Homo sapiens: one gene and its partner. The protein of the gene in region 1 purifies or fractionates together with the protein of each later gene. This does not show direct contact. Each region holds a gene or a part of one and is shown in the gene's direction. Other genes may lie near its edges.

Region 1 (5,234 bases):
TTTTGAGACAGAGTCTTGCTCTGTTGTCCAGGCTGGAGTCCAGTGATGCAATCTTGTCTCACTGCAACCTCTGCCTCCTGGGTTCAAGCAATCCTCCTGCCTCAGCCTCCCAAGTAGCTGGGATTACAGGCATGTGCCACCATGCCCAGCTAATTTTTGTATTTTTGGTAGAGACAGAGTTTTGCCATGTTGCTCAGGCTGGTCTTGAACTCCTGGCCTCAGGTGATCTGCCCACCTTGGCCTCCCAAAGTGCTGGGATTGCAGGCATGAGCCATGGTGCCCGGCCAGAATTAATGTTTAAATAGCGCTTGCTGTATGCCGAGTAATATTTTCAGAAACTTTACATGTATGAATTCTTTTTTTTTTTTTGAGACAGGGTCTCACTCTGTTGCCCAGGCTGGAATGCAGTTGCACAACAATCATAGCTCACTGCAGTCTCTAACTTCTGGGCTCAAGCGATCCTCCCACCTCAGCCTCCTGGGTAGCTGGGACTACAGGCATGTGCCACCACACTCAGCTATTTAAATTTTTTTTTTTTTTTGTAGAGGTGGGGTCTCTGTGTTGCTCAGGCTGGTCTTGAACTCCTAGCCTCAAGTGATCCTTCTGCTTCAGCCTCCCAAAGTACTGGGATTACAGGTATAAGCTATGAATTCTTCTAGTTTTCTTATTACCCTGTGTGATAGGTTCTGTTGTTATTTTATAGATGAGAAATCTGAGAGGTTACAACTTAGCCAAAGTCACACAGCTAGTAAGTGACAGAGTTGTGACTCAAACCTAAGCATTCTAGCTTGAGTCTGTATTCTTTGTTTTTTTGAGATGGAGTCTCACTCTGTTTCCCAAGCCGGAGTGCACAGGTGCAATCTCGGTTCACTGCAACCTCTGCCTCCCAGGTTCAAGCGATTCTCCTGCCTCAGCCTCCCGAGTAGCTGGGATTACAGGCGTGTGCCACCACACCCGGCTAATTTTTGTATTTTTAGTAGAGACAGGGTTTCACGATGTTGGCCAGCCTGGTTTCGAACTCTTGACCTCAGGTGATCCGCCCACCTCAGCCTCCCCAGTTCTGGGATTACAAGCATGAGCCACCATGCCTGGCCTGAGTCTGTATTCTTAACCACTGCATTGCTTCTTAGTGTGGGCATTTTTGAGGAGCAGAGTGAAGAGGAGAGCACTGAGACAAAGGGAGCACTGTATGTGAAAAAGTGCGCAGAAGTCTTGATAGAACAGGAAGCCAGTCACAAAAGGCCCTATAGTCCAGTCCAGATTTGGTACCTTATTCTTAGATCTGTGGCAAGCCATGGAAGGGTAAAAGCAAAGGAGATTTGGCCTTCATTATGTATTGCTCAGGTTACTCTAGAAGCAATGGGGCATATAGTGTTTTATTCTTCCATTCTAAGATGCTATTTACAGTAAGAAACACTATCAAATTAAAGATAGCTTTCTAGGAATAAAACTACAATTAAATTACACAGCTTTGTTGTTAAACCAGAATTTGTTTTTAAGCCAAAAATAACAAGTGTCTGTCTATACAGTTTATATTATGTAAGACTTCATTGATACATCACTTCATCACATTGAAAATCTAAAGACTTCTCTTTCTTTTCTTGCTTTTTTTTTTTTGAGACAAGAGTTTTGCTCTTGTTGCCCAGTCTGGAGTACAGTGGCACGATCTCGGCTCACTGCAACCTCCGCCTCCCAGGTTCAAGCGATTCTCTTGCCTCACCCTCCCGAGTAGCTGGGATTACAGGCATGCACCACCACACCTGGCTAATTATTTGTATTTTTAGTAGAGATGGGGTTTCTCCATGTTGGTCAGGCTGGTCTCAAACTCCCAACCTCAGGTGATCCACCTGCCTCGGCCTCCCAAAGTGCTGGGATTACAGGCATGAGCCACCACGTCCAGCCAAAAATCCAAAGACTTTTCTAAATTATGCTAGGCAGTCTGTAATCTCATTGGGCATTCTTCAATCATGCATAACGTCAGAGTAACACCACATTTTCTGTAATGTGGTTCTCCTGATCTTAGTTTTTCTTGTTTTAATATACTGACTATATAATTTAAACTGAACAATCAATTTGCATCTGAAGCAGAACTGAGATGAGGGGACTAGAAATGGGAGGCAAAAGTGATATTTCTTTAGGGCCAAGGAAGAGAGAATGAATATTTCAGAAACCCAAAGAATTTTTGTTAAAGCAAATTTTCTTTACCTATTTTTTTTCTATTCTCCTTTTTACCTTCCTTCGTAGAAGTAATTGTTGGTACATTCTGTTTATATTTCGAGAAGCAAATTGGGTTAATTATCATATTTCCCACTCGAGTATCCTTCTGTATATGTACAATAGAGAGTACTTAGTGACTGTTTGCAAACATAAAAATAAAATTATTTAAAAAAATTATTTTAATAACCATGTGACCCAGCAGTTCTACTCCTTAGCTGTATGCCCAAGATAATCGAAAACTGTTCAAACAAGAATTTGCATACAAATGTTTGTAGTTGCATTATTCATAATAGCCAAAAAGTGGAAACAACCTAAATGTCCATCAACTAATAAATGAATAAACAAAATACGGTATATCTAAACAGTGGAATATTATTTAGTCATAAAAAGAGTGAAGTACTGTATATGTTACAACAGGAATGAATCTTGAAAACATTATTCTAAGTAAATAAAGCCAGATTCAAAAGACCACATATTGTATGATTTTGTTCAGATATCCCTGACTTACATTTTTTGACTTTATGAGTATGCGAAAGTGATTCAGTAGAAATTATACTTTGAGCACCCATAAATTATTCTGTTTGTCACTTTTAGTGTAGTATTCAATAAATAACATGAAATAGTCAACACTTAATTATAAAATAGGCCTTGTGTTAGATTATTTTGCCCAACTGTAGGCTAATGTTAGTATTCTGAGTATGTTCAAGGTAGGCTAGGTAGGCTAAGCTATGATGTTCAGTGGGTTAGGTGTACTAAATGCACTTTCAACTTACAACATTTTCAATTTACGATGGGTTTATTGAGATGTAGCCCCATTGTAAGTCACGGAGCATCTACGTGTGAAATTTCCAGAATAGGTAAATTCATGAAGACCAAAAGTAGATCAATGGTTGCCAGCAGCTAGGGTTATGGAAGAATGGGGAGTGACTGCTACTGGGTACAGGGTTTCTTTTTGAAATTATGAAAATATTCTGGAATTAGTGGTGATGGTTATACAATATTGTGAATATACTAATTACCACTGAATTGTCTACTTTATAGGGTAAATTTTATGGCATGTGAATTATATCTTGCTTTTTTTTAAGTATTCATATTTTTTTTAAAGTATTCATGTAGGGAGCAAAATAAATGTAACTGAGAATCTACAAGCAGTGTTAAGATGTATTACAATATATATTCCAGTTAAGGCCAGGTAAACAAGAGAGAGAGATTTCTGGGCTGTTTCTTGTTTTTTAACATTCTAGGATATGAACGAAAAGTGTGTCTCCCTTAATGGCAAAATGTGATGCAATCTGAATTAATGTAAATAATGAATATGTTCATTAGAAAATGGGCAAGTCAGTCTTAGAAGCATAGAAAAAAGAGTCATAGGGGCAAATGTTGGCAATGGCCACCTTGTTTGTCTATACACTCTACAGTGTATGGAGAGAGAATTTCAGCCAACCAACAGAGAAAATTCAAGTCTATCTGTAGACTTGTAACCTGTAACAGTAGGTTAACATAGCCTGGCACCTTAAACATTCAGTTACTCTAATTTGCTTTTTCCCCTCATACTTCCTAAACTACCTTCTGATTGGCTTTCAGAATAGATGTATCAACTAGGAGAAAATATGCTGACCATAGAAACTTAAGGTATAATGATTCCTATTATGGCATTTCTCATGGGCTGGACAATCTGATGGATGGGCCTTCAGTAGGCGTACCTACCTGGTTTTTGAACCGCTAAATACTGAGGACAAGACAGGAGACATGAACCGGCATAACAGTTGCTATTTCAATAAACCTGTTAGGAATTAGCCTTTATAGCCAGCATCTTTCCACCCCAATGGTGCATTGTAGCCAAACATGAGAAAAAGGGAATTTCCACATAAGATTTTCCTCCTCCCCTCCTCTCCCCTTTTCCCCCTCTTTTTCTCTTTCTCCTTCCCTCCTTCCTTCCTCCCTCCCTGTCTTTCTTTTTTTTTGGACAGGGTCTTCCTCTGTTCCCCAAACTGGAGTTCAGTGGAGTGACCATGGTTACTGTAGCCTTGACCCCCTGGGCTCAAGAGATCCTCCCACTTCAGCCCTACCGAGTTGCTGGGGCTATAGGCATGCACCACCATGCCCAGCTGATTTTTTAATTTTTTATAGGGATGGGGTCCCACTATGTTGCCCAGGCTAGTCTTGAACTCCTGGGCCCCAGCGGTTCTCCTACCTTGGCTTCCCAAGTGTGAGCCACGGTGCCCAGCCTGAGTAAGAATTTTCTTTGGCATTTTGCACCTTTTCTGTTGCCTGTTTTTTAATGTTGAAAAACACAAGGCTTTTATAGGATAAGGTGATGCTGCGGGTAAACCGCTAGGTAAGTCAGGGCTCAAAAACACTGTCATATTTATGTATTAATAAATTCTGAGTCTGACTGAAAAAGTAACTTTCTAGCGCTGTGGAACTCTGTGGTCGTCATGCTACCATCTCTTTATCGGTCTGCTGCGTGATTTACTAAAATAATCATCAGTTGATTTTATCTGTGGCAAGTGGCAATATATTTTTTGTTAAATGCCGTTAAAATTATATACTTTAGATCCTACTGAGATAGCCCTCTTGTGAGAATAAGTCCTTTTTAAAATCCTGGTTATTATAACTTCTAGCTATTTGCTTTAAAACATGGTCTACTCATTGTGCAGTATCTGGATTAAAAAAAAACTCTACTGATAACTGTTATTTGCAATAATTCTTTATATTTTCTTAATAGAGTTGATGATCTGATTTTTTCTTAGTAAAACACAATCTTTTTTTTCCCCCTGAAATTAAAATTTATCTTTCAGGAAATAGGAGAAGAATATATCCCTTGGAGTCAAATCTCAAGATTGAAGTTGATGCTGTTTTTTTGTTTTCTCCATCAGGTTTGCCTGTCTGTCCTGAGCTGGTGAGGGAACACATACCTAAAACCAAGGATGTGGGACACTTTTTATCTGTCACTGGGACAGTGATTCGAACAAGTCTGGTGAAGGTTCTGGAGTTTGAGCGGGATTACATGTGTA
Region 2 (4,750 bases), on another chromosome or scaffold:
TTTTTTTTTTTTTTGAGACAGAGTCTTGCTCTGTCGCTCAGGCTGGAGTGCAGCAACACAATCTCAGCTCACTGCAACCTCCGCCTCCTGGGTTCAAGCGAATCTCCTGCCTCCTGAGCAGCTGGGATTACAGGTGCCCGCCACCACGCCCTACTAATTTTTGTATTTTTAGTAGAGATGGGGTTTCGCCATGTTGGTTAGGCTGGTCTCGAACTCCTGACCTCAAATGATCCATCTGCCTCAGCTTCCTAAAGTGCTGGGATTACAGGCATGAGCCACCATGCCCAGCCTGGTCCCAGCAAATCCTGAGTCATTGTTTTGTAATAGTTTTTGAAGAAAGACCTAAGCAAAGGCATGATCAATCTGTAAATTTTGAAATCTACAGCTGGTAAGACCTTGGTCTCATAACCTGCAGGATTCCCCCTCCTCACTTTGTATTTTGATTAATTGAAAAAATCACTTGTTGCAGGCCAGGTATGGTGGCTCACGCCTGTAATCCCAGCACTTAGGGATGCCGAGGGAGGTGGATTGCCTGAGCCCACGAGCTGGAGACCAGCCTGGGCAACATAGTGAGACTCTGTCTCCACTAAAAAATCATGAGCCAGGTGTGGCGGTGCACACCTGTAGTCCCATCTACTCAGGAGGCTGAGGCAGGAGGGTGACTTGAGCCTAGGAGGTCGAGGCTACAGTGAGCCATGATCATGCCACTGCACTTCAGCCTGAGCAACAGAGCAAGACCCTGTCTCAAAAAACAAAGAGAGAGCAAAAGAAAATGTTTTAAAAACAAAAGGAATCATTTGTTGCAAAGAAGGCAAAGGGAGGGAAGGATTTGGCACTGGAATAGCCAACAGGCTGTGGCATCCTCTGATGAGGTGACTCTTCCGGTATTGAATATGTGGGTTCCCACTGCCTTGTGCCCATAGAACTTTGCTGCTCACCTGCATTGCTGCCTTGGCAATTTCTTCTTGGCTCCCTGCAGCTTGGTGGCAGCTGTGACAGCCACTGTGATCTCCCCTTTCCCCCTCTGTCTACACAGAGCACCAATATGGCCTTTGGGAAGGTGACAGAGGAGACTGTCTACACCTGCACCGGGCACCCGCTCAAGTCAGACATTGCCAACATCCTGGACTGGATGTTGAATCAAGATTTCACCACAGCCTACAGAAGTATCCTTTCTCATGACCTCCTGGCCACCGAGACCTGAAGGTGGCCCCAGGAGTTCAGGTTGCAGCCAGCACCCACACCTTGCTGGCAAAGGATGACTGGCTGCAGGCGACTCTGGTCAGCTTGTTGTGGGAGTGAGATGTCTGTAGGTGGAGTGGGTACTTGTCTTTAGCACTCCAGAGTTCTTCTTGGAGGGCTCTGACCTTCAAGTCAGGGTAAGGCTTGAAGCAGCTTCACTCACAGATGGGAGAAAAGCTTAGGCCTTGGCATTGAAGATGCAGGAATTTTCAAGTGGTCATGATAGTGATAGCTCTTGTGCTGTGAAATGAAAGGCTAGGAATGGTGACACAAAGCCTTTTTGGAAATGCATTTGGGGCTGGGTGTGGTGGCTCATGCCTATAATCCCAGCACTTTTGGAGGCTGAGGCGGTAGATCACTTGAGGTCAGGAGTTCAAGACCAGCCTGGCCAACATGGCGAAACCCCGTCTCTACTAAAAATACAAAAATTAGCCGGGCGTGGTGGTGGGTGCCTGTAGTTCCAGCTACTCGGGAGGCTGAGGCATGAGAATTGCTTGAACCCGGGAGGCAGAGGTTGCAGTGAGCCGAGGTCATGCCACTGTACTCTAGCCTGGGTGACAGAGGGAGATTCCATCTTAAAAAAAAAAAAAAAGAAAGAAAGAAAAAGAAAACGCAGTTGGCTTTATTCTCTACTAGAAGGAGTTACAACTCTATCTTTCAGAAAGCCCTTACTGAAGATGAAACAAAGAAAAATAAAGAATTGGAGTCCAACACGTGCAGCTTCAAGTTGAAAGAGAAACAGTTGTGTTGGGATTAAAAGCCTTACTTTAAAAAGTCTCTTGCCCGGGTTTGGATTCAAAATTCTCTGCAGTATGTTTGTTCTGGAACTTGTTCCCTTTGCCTTAACTGCTCCTCTAGATATTACAGAGTTGAAAACTCTGAAGGGGTTGGCACTGCATGATATCCTGACAGAGATACACTTGTTTGTGCATAGAGGTAACTTACATTATCCCCCAGCTGAGAAGCTGTGGAGAAGGTAGCCTGCTTTGGGGTTAAGGATGGTTAGGACAGGAGGCTTCATTCTTGAAGCAAAGAAACTAATGAATTGTAAATCAGACCCTTCTTGTTAGCAGTTCTGTCTTGCCACTGTTTAAAATTTTGTTCCAGAGCTGGGTACGGTGGCTCAAGCCTGTAATCCTAGCACTTTGGGAGGCCAAAGCAGGCAGATCACCTGAGGTCAGGAGTTGAAGACCAGCCTGGGCAACATGGTGAAACCCCGTCTCTACTAAAAATACAAAAAATTAGCCTGGCATGGTGGCGCACGCCTGTAATCCCAGCTACGTGGGAGGCTGAGGTGGGAGAATCATTTGAACCTGGGAGGTGGAGGTTGCAGTGAGCCAAGATTTGCCACTGCACTCCAGCCTGGGCGACAGAGCTAGAGTTTGTCTCAAAAAAAAAAACAAAACAAAACACAAAAAACGTGTTCCATAAACCCTCTTTTAATATCTAGAACTGCTGGGGAAAGTGAAAACTCCTGGAGGCTAACTTTATTTCCTCTAGGGGTTTATATTTTATAGCAGTAAGTAGTATATATTAATTCACATTTCTAAAAAAAAAAAAAAAGTCTGTCTATCTATCTGTCTATCTAGATATATATTCCCAGAAAAGAAAGAGAAGATATGTAAACCATGTAAACCAAAGCAGGCTTAAGGAAAACATCTTAAGTTCCACACTTGCCTGTACCTTCTACACAGAGAATTGGTTCTCAACCTTGGCAGCAGATAGGGGCACTCCAGACAAATTAAGTCAGCTTCTCGGAGGACAACCAGGCATCCGTATTCTCTAAGCTCCCCAGGTGACTTGTGTAGGCTTTCGGAGAAGCTCTTCCTTCCACAGTGGCCAACTGCAAGATGGAGACTTAACCGGGTCAATGAATGTTGGTTCTGCCCAGGCCTTCACAGGCCTCTTCCTGGCTGGCCCATGCCATGCCTTCTGCCCAAGGTATGGTTGGCTCAGGCCCAGCTCTGCACCTTGATTGTGGAAGCTGAGCATAAACCAACTTTAAAAAATCAGTTGTTTGTGCTTGGTTTTTAAATGGGGACAGGATCGGTATAGTGGCTGACGCCTGTAATCCCAACACTTTGGGAAGTCAAAATGGGTGGATCACTTGAGCCCAGGAGTTTGAGACCAGCCTGGGCAACACGGTGAAACCGCATCTCTACAAAAAGTACAAAACAGCCAGGCAAGGTGGCGCACACCTGTAGCCCCAGTTACTCAAGGGTCTTGAGGTGGAAGATCCCTCAAGCCCAAGAGGTCAAGGCTGCAGTGAGTCATGATCACGCCATGCCATGGCACTCCAGCCTGGGCAAGACAGTGAGACCCCGTCTCAAAATAAAGTAAAATATAAAATAAAAACAGCAAGTGGGAACTCAGCATTCAAGTTAACTTGTAGAGCTACCCAGCTGCTAAGAGCAGTGTGATCTTTGGTGCTCTTAGGATCACTTTGGTATCTGCTCATTTTCCTTTTTGTCTACCCTATAAAGCACAAAATCGAGTGGGTAAAAAGTATGAAACCAGCACTGTTTCTACTTTCTTAGAGGTCTGGTATCTAGTGAGCAGGCTGAGGCCTCAGGACTAGTTCAGTGTTAAGGATTTCATGTTGAAACTCATTTGTCCTCTGTGGGTTTTTTGACAGTAGAGAGTGACCTAACTCATTTGATTTTGTTTTTCCCTCAGTTGACTTTCCATCTTCAGTTCGAATACATTTATTGACCAAAATGGCAGACATTGAGTGAGTACTTCTTGCCCCAGTTTTAATTCTTTTCTTCCTTTTTTCCCCTGTTGTGAGTTATTTGTTTCAACTTTCTTGGTTTCAGGTTTTTTTCCTAAATCGTTCACATACGGTACAATCTAGTCTGGTGATATTGAATGGAATGTGGGGAAGGGTGTGAGCTGCTTAAAGAACATGGGGATAAATTCACAGGTCAAGTACAGATCAGTTACATATCTGAGATGAAGGCCTCTCCTTGGACCTCACAGGCTCGGCCCACATTGATTCTGAAAATGCCCTTGTTATTTGGGAGGCCTGCTTTGCTTCAACCACCCAGCTGTTATTAAGGCATTTTGGCATACTAAAGCATATTGGGGGGAAAAGTAAACACAAACTCAATTTTCTGCTTTGCCTGGTTCCGTAAACACTGTTATTAGCCCCCAGTGAAGCTGGCAGCTATCATTTAAGTAGACAGAGCATTGGGTTCAACATAGACGTCAGCATAGGCCAACTCTAATTTGTGGCATTGGCTTTCACAGGCACAAATTAGGTCACCTCTCCTCATTGCATTGTGAATATGATGATTTTGCTATCAGTGGCTGGGCATTTAAAAGGTGGCGAGATGAACTCCAGTGTCCTGCTTTACTGACTAGACCACAGACCCACCAATGTATCAGCCAAACTTCCCGATGAAATGGCTTAAGAGGAAGGAAATCTCTGTTTTGTTTCCCTCTTAACGTATTTTGCCGACGAAATAATCCTTCATTACATAAATTTTGTATATCTGTATAGTTAGGA

What was found. Proteins that work in one complex are often made in the same cells at the same time.
Region 2: the proteins of MCM9 (region 1) and RFC5 purify together in Homo sapiens (affinity purification with mass spectrometry; 2 studies listed by BioGRID and IntAct, with this or other methods). This does not show direct contact.

Annotation. Positions count from the first base shown.
Region 1 is NC_000006.12:118,923,990-118,929,223, reverse strand, and holds part of MCM9 (DNA helicase MCM9), read left to right. Parts: intron 1-545; coding exon of another isoform or gene 546-636; intron 637-5,096; coding exon 5,097-5,234. UniProt on the Homo sapiens protein: Component of the MCM8-MCM9 complex, a complex involved in the repair of double-stranded DNA breaks (DBSs) and DNA interstrand cross-links (ICLs) by homologous recombination (HR).
Region 2 is NC_000012.12:118,025,853-118,030,602, forward strand, and holds part of RFC5 (replication factor C subunit 5), read left to right. Parts: intron 1-1,036; coding exon 1,037-1,166; intron 1,167-2,100; coding exon 2,101-2,178; intron 2,179-3,918; coding exon 3,919-3,973; intron 3,974-4,750. UniProt on the Homo sapiens protein: Subunit of the replication factor C (RFC) complex which acts during elongation of primed DNA templates by DNA polymerases delta and epsilon, and is necessary for ATP-dependent loading of proliferating cell nuclear antigen (PCNA) onto primed DNA.